3 linked regions of the Homo sapiens genome follow. The protein of the gene in region 3 purifies or fractionates together with the protein of the main gene of each other region. This does not show direct contact. Each region holds a gene or a part of one and is shown on either strand. Other genes may lie near its edges.

Region 1 (3,646 bases), on a different chromosome or scaffold from region 3:
GGTAGTGTCTGTTATACCGAGGCCCCAAGAAAAGCAGGCATTAACTAGATAAAGGGAAGAGGGAAGAACATTCCAGGCCAAAGAACAGCGTGTACAAATGCCTTGTGAAGGAAATGATGAATAGAAGAAACTGAAACAGAAAGGAGATCTTGAGGCAAGAGAAAACCAAAAATATCAGTGAGTGAAAGGCTGTGAAACAAAGAGCTTTGTAGGCCAGTTTAAGGAATTTTGCCCTACCCTAGGAGAGGAGGAAGCTGCTTGTGGGAGGGTTTAGGCGTAAGAAATAGACCCCATTCTGGCCGGGCGTGGTGGCTCATGCATGTAATCCCAGCACTTTGGGAGGCTGAGGCGGGCGGATGACGAGGTCAAGAGATGGAGACCATCCTGGCCAAAATGGTGAAACTCCGTCTCTACTAAAAATACAAAAATTAGCTGGGTGTGGTGGTGTGTGCCTGTAGTCCCAGCTAGTCAAGAGGCTAAGGCAGGAGAATTGCTTGAACCCTGGAGGCGGAGGTTGCAGTGAGCCGAGATTGCACCACTGCACTCCAGCCTGGTGACAGAGTGAGACTCTGTCTCAGGAAAAAAAAAAAAAAGAGACCCCATTCTGGGCCGGGCACAGTGGCTCACACCTGTAATCCCAGCACTTGGGAGGCTGAGGCAGGTGGATCACCTGAGGTCAGGAGTTCGCGACCACCCTGGACAACATGGTGAAACCCCGTCTCTACTAAAAATACAAAAAAATAGCCAGGTGTGGTGGCGAGGACCTGTAATCCCAGCTACTCGGGAGGCTGAGGCAGGAGAATTGCTTGAACTGGGGAGGCAGAGGTTGCAGTGAGCCGAGATTGCACCACTGCACTCCAGCCTGGGCCACAGAGTGAGACCTTGTCTCAAAAAAAAAAAAAAAAAAAAAAGAAAGAAAAAGAAAAAAGAAATAGACCCCATTCTGTAGGAACTGGGAAGTTAACTTGTAGTGGTTCCTAAACCTGCTATGAGTCAGAGAACTGCCCTGGAAATTTTGATCTGTGTGCCCTGCAGTGGTGCCTAATTAGCTGTCTTTTTAACAAGTTCTCTAAGTGATTATTAATGTTAGAGAATCTCTGCAAAGATAACATAGGTTTGAGTCTTAACATTGATACTCAGAAGCTTGGTGATTTGATTTGGGCAGGTTACAGAATCTCTTTTAGTCAGATTCTTCATCTCCAGCGGAAGTGGGGAGAATTATAGATCCTCCCTTTTTGAATTCCTGGGAGGAATAAATGAGAAAATTCATTTAAATTGTTCAGTACAAGGCCAGACATGTGGTTAAGGGCTCTTAATAATTATTACTGAAAGTTCTTCAGTAAAGGTGAGGGTGATTTAGGGGATTTTTATTTTTATTTTTATTTTTGAGAGAGTCTCACTGTCACCCAGGCTGGAGTGCAGTGGTGAAATCATGGCTCACTGTGGCCTTGCCTACCGGGCTCAGGTGATCCTCCCACCTCAGCCTCCTGAGTAGCTAGGACTACAGGCACACGCCACCATGCCCAGATAATATTTTGTATTTTTTGTAGAGACAGGGTTTCGCCATGTTGCCCAAACTGTCCTCAAATTCCTCAGCTGAAGTGATCCACCTGCCTTGGCCTCCCAAAGTTCTGGGATTACAGGCATGAACCACTGTGCCTGGCTGATTTAGGGGATTAATCTTGGAGTGGTATGTATGGTGGGTTGGAAACAGAAATAAGTTAAGCCTCGGCTAGGTCTCAGTAACTTGACCATGGTCTGTAAGCATTTTCAGAAGTTTGCTTTAACATGGCTATTAGTTTTTGATGATCCTTATATAGGTTAAGTAGTTGAAGTAGATAATGTCCCTGTTGCTCTCTAAAGGACATTAAGAGGAGACTTTGGTCCCCAGAATATGTTTTACTGGTTTAACATCTACGGTATTATGTTTTTTTCTTTCTTTTTTTTTTGAGATGGGATCTTGCTCTGTCACCCAGGCTGGAGTACAGTGGTGCAGTCTTGGCTCACTGCAATGTCCATCTCCCTGTTCAAGCAATTCTCCTGCTTCAGCCTCCTGAGTTTGGGATTACAGGCACGCGCCACCACACCTGGCTAATTTTTGTATTTTTAGTAGAGATGGGGTTTTACCATGTTGGTCAGGCTGGTCTCAAACTCCTGACCTAGTGATCCACCTGCCTTGGCCTCCCAAAGTGCTGGGATTACAGGCGTGAGCCACTGCACCTGGCCTACAGTGTTACTTTGATTTGACTTTAGTTTCTTAGTTCTAGAGAGAGGCTTCACTTGCTACTTATAGAGGACTGTTTGAAACCTATCTTCATTTGCTACCCAGAGAATAGAATCTTATCTGCATATATTCACTGTAATGGGGTAGATATTTACAAAATTTCATAAATCAATATCATCTGTCAATTTTGCTTTCTCCTTATAAATATGGTGGGAGACCCATTACTTTTCATTATCCTTGCTTACATTCCTCTCTTTGGCTTATGTATCCCTGGGCCATGCAATGGTCGAGGGCAGAGAAACTTTCTGTAGCTTGTTCCTGAAGTATCAATTTTATAAGAAAATGTATATGTAAAGAATTATTTTGCTTTTTAAACAAGCATGGATTTCATAGAGCAGCAGTTCTCAAAGTATGGCCTTGCAGACCCCAGGGTTCTCTGAGACCCTTTCCACGGAACATGTGAAGTCAAGACTATTTCATAATAGTAGTAAAACATTATTTGCATTTTTCACTGCGTTAGCATTTACACTGATGGCACCGGCAACAGTAGATAAAACTCTGCACCTTAGCACCATTCAAGACATTGGAACCAATAGTAGTAATGATCATAGTTTTCATTACCATGTGCATGCAAAAAGAAAACAAAACAAAACTAGTTTCACTTAATGTCCATGATTAAACAGTAGAAGATACTCATTTTATTAACCTTGACTTTTAGATACACATATTTTTAACAATCTATATGATAAAGTGGGCAGTATGCATACTTCTGTATCCAAAGTATGATAATAGATACAATTAAGATGCAAACTGAACTGGTTGCTTTTTTGTGGCACACTATTTTTACCTGAAAGAGAGACTGACAATCAAAATTCAAAATATTTGTGCTGCGAAGGATACCATCGTAGTGAAACAGCAACCCACAGAAAGGGAGAAAATGTTTAGAAATCCTGTATCTGAAAAGGGACTTATATTTAGAATATATAAAAATTTATTACAACTGAACAATTTTAAAAAGGCCAGCGTGGTGGCTCACGCCTGTAGTCCCTGCACTTTGGGAGGCAAGATGGGAGAATCAGTTGAGGCAAGGAGTTCAAAACCAGCCTGGGCAACATAGAGAGATTGTGTCTCTACCAACCCCTCCTGCACCCCCGCCCAAAAACCAAACCCAAAAAAAGCCCAATTTAAAAACAGACAAAGGACCTAAAAAGACATTTCTTCCCCAAAAAATTATTTGAAGAAATGTCTTTTAAGGTCCTTTGTCCGTCTTTAAATTGGGGAAAAAGAAATTGGAAAAGACATTTCTCCAAAGATAAGCAAATAGTAAGCACATGAAAAGATGCTCACCATCGCCGGGCGTGGTGGTTCATGCCTGTAATCCCAGCACTTTGGGAGGCTGAGGCAGGTGGATCACCTGAGATC
Region 2 (3,646 bases), on a different chromosome or scaffold from region 3:
CCAGCACTTTGGGAGGCCGAGGCGGGCGGATCACCTGAGGTCAGGAGTTTGAGACCAGCCTGCCCAACATGGTGAAACCCCGTCTCTACTAATTAGACACAAAAAAAAATTAGCCGGGCGTGGTGGCACATGCCTGTAATCCCAGCTACTTGGGAGGCTGAGGCAGGGGAATCGCTTGAACCCGGGAGGCAGAGGTCGCAGTGAGCTGAGATCATGCCATTGCACTCCAGCCTGGGCAACAAGAGCGAAACTCTGTCTCAAAAAAAAGAATAATTAGATGTAACATCATAACCTAAGCCATTCTGATCAAACATCCCCCCCTCATCTCATTTCCACTCCACTCTCAAGACTTACAGCTGCTTTTTTTTTTTTTTTTTTTTTTTAAGACAGGGTCTCAGGCTGGGCACTGTGGCTCACGCCTGTAAACCCAGCACTTTGGAAGGCCAAGGAGGGTGGATCACGAGGTCAGGAGTTCAAGACCAACCTGGCCAACATGGTGAAACCCTGTCTCTACTAAAAATACAAAAAATTAGCCGGACATGGTGGCAGGTGCCTGTAGTCCCAGCTACTCGGGAGGCTGAGGCAGGAGAACTGCTTGAACCCGGGAGGTGGAGGTCGCAGTGAGCCAAAATTGTGCCATTGCACTCCAGCCTGGGTGACAAGAGTGAAACTCTGTCCAAAAAAAAAAAAAAAAGCAGTCTCATCCTGTTGCCCAGGCTGGAGTACACTGGTGCAATCATGGCTCACTCACTGCAGCCTTGACCTCCTGGGCTCAAGTGATCCTCCCGCCTCAGCTTCTCCAATAGCTGGGACCACAAGTATATGCCACCACACTCAGCTAAATTTTTTTTTTTTTTTTTGAGACAGGGTTTCACTCTCGTCACCCAGGCTGGAGTGCAATGATGCAATCTTGACTCACTGAAATCTCTGACTCCCAGGCTGAAGTGATTCTCCTGCCTCAGCCTCCCAAGTAGCTGGGACAACAGGAGCACATCACCATACCCAGCTACTTTTTGTATTTTTTGTAGAGACAGGGTTTCACCATGTTGCCCAAACTGGTTTTGAACTCTTGAGCTCAAGTGATCTGCCCGCCTCAGCCTCCCAAAATGCTGGGATTACAGGCCATAAGCCACTGTGCCTGGCCTATACTAGGCTAATTAAAAAAAAAAAAAAAATTTTTTTAGGCTGGGTGTAGTTGCTCACGCCTGTAATCCCAGCACTTTGGGAGGCTGAGGCGGGCAGATCATGAGGTCAGGAGTTCGAGGCCAGCCTGACCAACATGGTGAAACCCTGTCTCTACTAAAAATACAAAAAAATTAGCCGGGTGTGGTGGTGGGCGTCTGTAATCCCAGCTACTCAGGAGGCTGAGGCAGGAGAATCGCTTGAACCCAGGAGGCAGAGGTTGCAGTGAGCCGAGATTGCGCAATTGCACTCCAGCCTGGGTGACAGAGCAAGACTGCATCTCAAAAAAAAAAAAAAAATTTTTTTTCAAAGAGATGGGATCTTGCTATGTTGCTCAGGCTGGATTTCGCACTTCTAAATTTAAGGTCTGATGAGCAGGAATCTCTTTAGTATCTCCAGAAATATTAACACTGGTTACCAATCCTAAGTACTTGCAAGCAATGTCCCAGATCTCACCCTGAAGCCCAATCTAAACTGTCCACACACTTGGGTCTACTATGTAGCACTTACTGTTCAGGTTGTATCTGGAATTGAGATTCCGTTTGACATAATAAAGGATTGCAGGTACTTTCCAATTCATGTCAAACTGCACAGCTTCATGCTATAGAAGAGAAAAAGCACTTATGGCTAATGTATATCACCCTTTTCCTTTTCCCCCACTTCAGACGGAGGCCAGGACTCAGGTGCTAGTTTTTGTTTTTTTTCAGGTGCTATTTTTAAGTGCTAATGGTTTTTATTCCTGAGGATTCCTTCCTCCCTCCCTGTTGAATCTGCCTGGCATTCTATAGAGCCCTAAAGATAAGGATGCTAGGAAAAGGGGAAATGAAAGAAGAAACAGAACATGTTGCAACTAACCTTATCAATAGGTTCAATAAGAAAGTCATTGAACAGATACCACTGCTGGTGAGTAACGCCCTATGGAAATACAAAGAAAGCCTGTGGCGATACAAATTGATGGCTGGACCACTCTGTCTCAGACTCAAGGACAGATCTGGGACTCACTGTGGCCATCCCAGGAGTGTTCCTGCCCTCTACAACCTCACTCACCTCCTTGCGCTGGTGGTAGGTCTCTCCAACTTTGATGTGAGCCACCAGGCTGCCCCCTGTGCGTGAGTCCAGGATGTGTACCACAGTAGCCATCAGGTCATACACATAGACACCATGCTCCTCCTCTGCCCTGGCTGGGCCCCACTGTGAGGGGGGTACCCAGGCTGCTAAGCTAAGTTTAAGGATGGGGAAGGGAGGGGAATGGGGACAGAGGACAGGGAGTTGGGGGTATGGGGGATGGGGGACCAGGGTGGGTTATCTCCATCCTAGCCCATCTAGGACCCCAACACTGAACTGAGTGACTATGGAAAATCCCCTAACAGGTAAATACTAGGCCTTATTCTCTTCCTTTTCCCTCTGCTAAGTTTCACCTTCCCCTGCCCTCCTTTACCTTCTGCCCCACCTTCTCTCCCTTATTCCCTTTCCTCTTCCCGGTTTTTCAACAACCTGCATCTCATCCCCATCAGTCCAATTGCAAACATCCAGCCCTTTGTTTTTGGTCATCTTCATGCGAATGGAGAAAGGAAGCCAGACGTTCTTCAACTCCTCAATGGAGGGACACACCAGCACACCCTCTGGACTCCCTAGTTCCTTCCTATCAGGTCAGAAGAATTGGAAATTTGTTCCGAAAGAGGTCTTGATAAGAGGAACCACTGGGCAATTCAATCCTTTGACAACTCCCAAGACAGCACCTACCAATCAGCCAAAGCAAATTCCTTGTTCTTGGAGATTTCCCCACCGTGTTTCTTTACTGCCATCTTGAAGGCAACCTGAACACAGAAGAAAAACATCCAGTTCTTCAGGAATGTAATCATATATGGAGGTCAGAAGGGGGATAAAATGAAAAATTATTCCGGAAGCCTTGTTTCTAGTCTGAGTCCTTACCTCAGCCTGCATTCTCCAGAAATCAGCCTCTTTTGAGCTGTTCACCTCACAATTGATGACAAGAATATCTGGCAGATGGCGGATGTTGCGGGTCTGAATCTGAGAGGAAGAAACAAACAAGGAATGGCAGGGAATGTACAGGAAAAGGAGTCTGGACAGGGACCTGGGTCTGCGTCTTCAAACTGGGATTCCTCACTCCACCAGAGATCCCTGGATGGCAGTGCTGACAGAGCCAGCCCCACATGGGATAGTGGCTGAATCTCCATGGCAGGACCAGGACTCTAGTCCAGTCCAACAGTCCACTCACCGTGGGCTGGTACTTTTCACAGGTGTCACACCAGGCCTGTGTATTCTGGTCCAGGCAGATGCTTCGCTTCAGCACCTGAGCAAAGTCATAGTTCTTCCCAGTTTTATCTGAGGGAAAATTAGATGCTATACTCCTGGTTCTCCCCTCTACCCACAGTTAGTCCCCAACACCCTCTCCCTGATATTACAGGACATTTTGGGGAGCCTTCCCAACTGAGCTGAAGGG
Region 3 (4,099 bases):
GGAGGGACCGGGGAGAAGACCTCACTCACAGTCCCCCGGGGGCTCCAGACTGCATCTTCCGGCACTCCTGTCTGCCTGTGACCGCAGAACACGGCCCTCCCTCCCCCTGGCTCTGTGTCCCGCACACTCACAGAGGCAGAGCAGCCCGCGTGGCCAGAGCCGGGGGAGGGGGCCTCAGCGCGCGGGCCTGGCGCGCCCAGTCCCGGGTTCGCGGAGCCTCGCTCCGCCGCCCGAGGGGCCGTAGTGGGTGCGAGCCTTGCGCCCGTTGCACGGTCAGGGGCCACCCCACGCCGGCGGGACTGCGACTAGAAGAAATGTGGGGCTCTCCCGCGTGCCCCACACTGGGGTCGCTGGCCAGAAAGAGCAAACAAGAGTTGGGAGAGGGGCTGCGCCCGCGCGCCTGCGCAGAGCCAGAGCCGGCCCTCCAGGCTGCAAGGAAAGGAGCGCCAGAGGCGGTGAGGGGAAGGTCCTTTGTGGCACTCGGCTAGTTTCACGGCCGTCAGCCTCGTCCTCGGCTCCTCTTACTCCCGCACAGCGTGGCCCAGGCCCCAGAGTCTCCCTCGCCTTTCTTTCGACGTTGAGCCCCCCGAGGAATCACAAGGCGCTCGGAAGACTCATGCCTGCCCGAAACGGGTCCGAAATGTTTCCAGAGCCCGCGTCGTCCCCTCAGTTCCCCCTCCCGCAGAGGCCGTAACGGGGCGATGCTATCGCCGCGGACACGGCCAGACGCTCGGAGCTGGAGGGAAGGCCCCGGGAAACGGCTCGGGCAAACGTCCGAACCATGGGCTCCGAGGCAGGTGCAGGGCGGACGACTCAGCGGGGGGTTTCCGGCGGGCATGGTGACTCCCTCCCCTCCCCCGCGATACTCGTCCCCCAAACACAACTAAAGGGAGAGTGCACTGTGCCCGGCTCGTGAGCAACCCGGCCCCAGGTGGTCCCCGGCCCTCACGGAGCGCCCCTGGGAGAACACCTCACACGACGCGCACAAGTTCAGAGTGGTATGGGAATGAAGGAAAGGAGTGCGGCGCGGCGCTGTGACAGGGAGGGGAAGACGGGGAGCCGGACGCACGACCGGCGAGCACAGAAGGGCACAGGAGCTGCTCCGCGAGATACCAGCGAGCTGAGGCGCGGGGCTGGCTGGGAAGTAGTCCCGGCCGGGCCCTGGCCCCGCCCCTGCAGGGCGGAGGGACGCATCACGCAGGGGTGGGGAAGCCGGATCCGTGCGCAGGGTTGCTAAGGGTGAAACTTTTCATTGACTTTGCTCACTTCGGGCCGGGGCGCGGGAAGGTGCGGGTTGTTGGCTGAGGCAAGCCGTGGCTCGGGCGACGCGGGGCCAGGAGGGCAGGACCGTCTGCCGGCGACAGCCCATACCGTCTGCCGTTGCGCGACACGAACCACCCTCCGATCCGCCATCCCCGCGTCGTCGCCGCTAGTCCGCCCGCCCGCCCTCGGGCCCCCCGCTGCCGAGCCCGACCTCCTAAGAGCTGAAAGAAATTATTGAGAGTCATAGTCCATAGCCCCCTGCTTCGTCCCCCAACCCTCAACGACGAAAAGGACTTCGGTCCCCTGGCCCGGCGACGCCCGGGAAGGAAAGGAGAGCGACCTCCGCCCCGCGCTCAGGCCACCCTGGAGGGAGAAGCCGCCCCGCGGCCGGTAGAGCGCCCCGCCGCCGCGGAGACCCGAGTGAGTGAGTTGGGGGGCGTGCGGGCGGGGGGCCCGCCCCGAGACCCAGCCGGCCGGACTACCTCTTCCACCCCGCCCCACTCCCGCTTTGCTGGACTCTCCACGTTGCTGCCGCTCCCTCCCCGCCTGGCCAGCATTTTCTTTCCCCATCCAGCTTCCCTCCAGACCCCACTTTCCCCAGCTCCTCTTCTCACGCCATCTGTGCTCCTGGGGTGCCCAAGAGCTCCTTTTTCTCCCAGTTCCAAGAGTGGCCCTCTCCTGGGTGGGGTGCATTTCCTCCCTTCCCCGCCTCCCCCGGTTCTTTATATCCTAGCTACTCGCTAGATCTTCCTTGTTCTCCAAAGAAACATAACTCCCCCCACCGTTAAATAAATCCGAGGAAGGAAGGGGATCCAGGCCTTGTTTTTCTGCTTCTTTTCCCGTGTGCAGGGAAGGGGGGTGGTAATTGTTAATAGACTCTATTTCTGGCTCTGTGGAGCCTGAAGGGTGGAGGGTGGACACCCCCTTTGGCGACGGGACAGGTCAGTGGAGATTGTCCTTGGGCCACTGAGCCAGAGTTCACCGTTTCGGCTGAGCTCTTTATACTCTTAAGTGTTTTAATGGAAAATTGGGCAGAAAAAAGTACCCTTAGAGCAGTGCCAGTGAGTGGATTCTGCTTATCTTGGTAAGGTGCCTGCGAGGTGGGGCCCTACCCCCAAACTCCTTCCCCTCCTGTCCGGAGGATGAACTGTGCCCTTGACCACCAGAAATCTGGGAGGGGAAGGAGGGTGCAGAGAGGAGGCACAGCCGGCAGGCCCTCTCCCTCCCCCAGGAGAAACCAGAACCCCGCACAGCAAGCTTCAGCTTGGGGACGGGTGGAGGCCAGTCTCTGGTGCTACTCCGTATCTAAACGGTCTTTTTCTCCTTCTTACCCACCGTACCCTGGGAATGGGTCCTTCATCTCTGATTTTCCGGCAGAAAAACAATCCTATTGCTTTCTTGGGCTTCTACCCCCATCCCTCCGTGAAGCATAGGGGGAAAGAAGCTTGTGTGGGAGGAAGGATTAAGGAGGTTTAACACCCAGCGGGGGAGCTTGCCGAGGATCTGGTAAGTCTGGTCGTAAAGCAGACCTTGCAATGGGAGGAGACACACAGAATTTTAGTATGAGAAGATGCTCAGGTGTCAGGTGTACAGTTTTTTTCTTCTCTGCCTGGGAACCTTTTCCTATTTCCCTCTCCCGGATCTGGTTACTCAGTCTTCGATTAGAAATGGGGTGAGGCTTGGGCCCTGCTGGCCTTGGCCTGGCGCCTCCCCACAGCTTGACTGGAAATTTCTTTGGCCGAGAGGACGGGAGAACTGGGTTTGATTCCTGCCTTTCCTTTCCTGGCTGTTTGGGGTGCTGGAGCCGAGTCCGCTAGGCATTAAGTGAAAAAGATCCGTTTCCCTTTGAATCCACCGTCCATCCAGCAACCCCACACGGACCGCCCAGGCCCTGGAATTCAGATTGGGTGGGGGGAAGGGGGTCGTGACCTTATCTAAGCCAGCCCACCCCCTTCACCCAGAAAAAACTCATTAGAAGCAGATCCTAGTTTCATCAGTAATGGGAGGCGATGAAGGGAAAGGTGGGAAAGTTAGGCTCTCGTAAAGCCTAGAGGATGTGGTGGGGCCATACAATACGGGGAGTAGGCCTTTTGGGTAGAATCTACATGAAATGTATTAGGCGATGGGAGGGGGGCGCCGACCCGCCTCAGCGCGCATGTGCATCGGAAACTTTTCCTGGGCTCTTCGACCCTCGGTCGGCTCCCCTTACCGGGCATGCGTATTGCGGCCAGTTGGGCCTTCGCAAAGTGCTCAGGGAAGTGTAGTGTGCAGGGAAAGTAGGTCACTCCTGCTATCGCCTGGTCCGGAGGTGTTTGAGGACTACAATTCCCAGAGTGCAGAGCGGGCCCTCACCGCCCGCCTCTCCGCCTACGTTTGGGTTGAGTCGAGTTTTCCTAGCTCCTGAGGAACATGGAGTGCCCTAGAAAGGGTCTTCATAGCCGAAAGGGGCCTTGTTGTCAGACCTAAGGTTGACCGGTCTGTGTCTAGGGGGAGATGATGAGAGACTGGGCGCGGTGTTGCAGTCAGTCAGCACCAGTCCTGGAAGCCTTTCAATACACACCCGCCTGTCTGGGCCGCTGCCTCTGGGACCAGCGAGTTGGGGCGGATCCCGTGTCTCACCAAGGAGAGGAGCTGCCTGCGTTTGGCTCTCACTCCCCGGACAGCGGCAGGGCACTCGCATCCACCCGGTCTGTGACACCTGCTGGCCCCTCCACACTTAGTTGAGTCCTGTAGTCCGTCATTGTAGGACAGTTTGCACATTTAAGGCTTAGAGGTGTCTGAGTATCTTTTTGGGTTTGGGGCTCAGTGGATTCCATCACCATTATCCCTCCTTTTC

The links.
Region 1: the proteins of TOB2 (region 3) and CPEB3 purify together in Homo sapiens (co-immunoprecipitation; one study listed by IntAct). This does not show direct contact.
Region 2: the proteins of TOB2 (region 3) and PAN2 purify together in Homo sapiens (affinity purification with western blotting, with the first as the bait; one study listed by BioGRID). This does not show direct contact.

What each region holds. Positions count from the first base shown.
Region 1 is NC_000010.11:92,280,988-92,284,633, reverse strand, and holds part of CPEB3 (cytoplasmic polyadenylation element-binding protein 3), read left to right. Parts: intron 1-3,646. UniProt on the Homo sapiens protein: Sequence-specific RNA-binding protein which acts as a translational repressor in the basal unstimulated state but, following neuronal stimulation, acts as a translational activator.
Region 2 is NC_000012.12:56,320,386-56,324,031, forward strand, and holds part of PAN2 (PAN2-PAN3 deadenylation complex catalytic subunit PAN2), read right to left. Parts: intron 3,529-3,646; coding exon 3,422-3,528; intron 3,214-3,421; coding exon 3,115-3,213; intron 3,000-3,114; coding exon 2,926-2,999; intron 2,825-2,925; coding exon 2,677-2,824; intron 2,374-2,676; coding exon 2,230-2,373; intron 2,098-2,229; coding exon 2,038-2,097; intron 1,784-2,037; coding exon 1,693-1,783; intron 1-1,692. UniProt on the Homo sapiens protein: Catalytic subunit of the poly(A)-nuclease (PAN) deadenylation complex, one of two cytoplasmic mRNA deadenylases involved in general and miRNA-mediated mRNA turnover.
Region 3 is NC_000022.11:41,443,963-41,448,061, reverse strand, and holds the start of TOB2 (protein Tob2), read left to right. Parts: upstream 1-1,260; 5' UTR 1,261-1,683; exon of another isoform or gene 1,684-2,769; intron 2,770-2,789; exon of another isoform or gene 2,790-3,950; intron 3,951-4,099. UniProt on the Homo sapiens protein: Anti-proliferative protein inhibits cell cycle progression from the G0/G1 to S phases.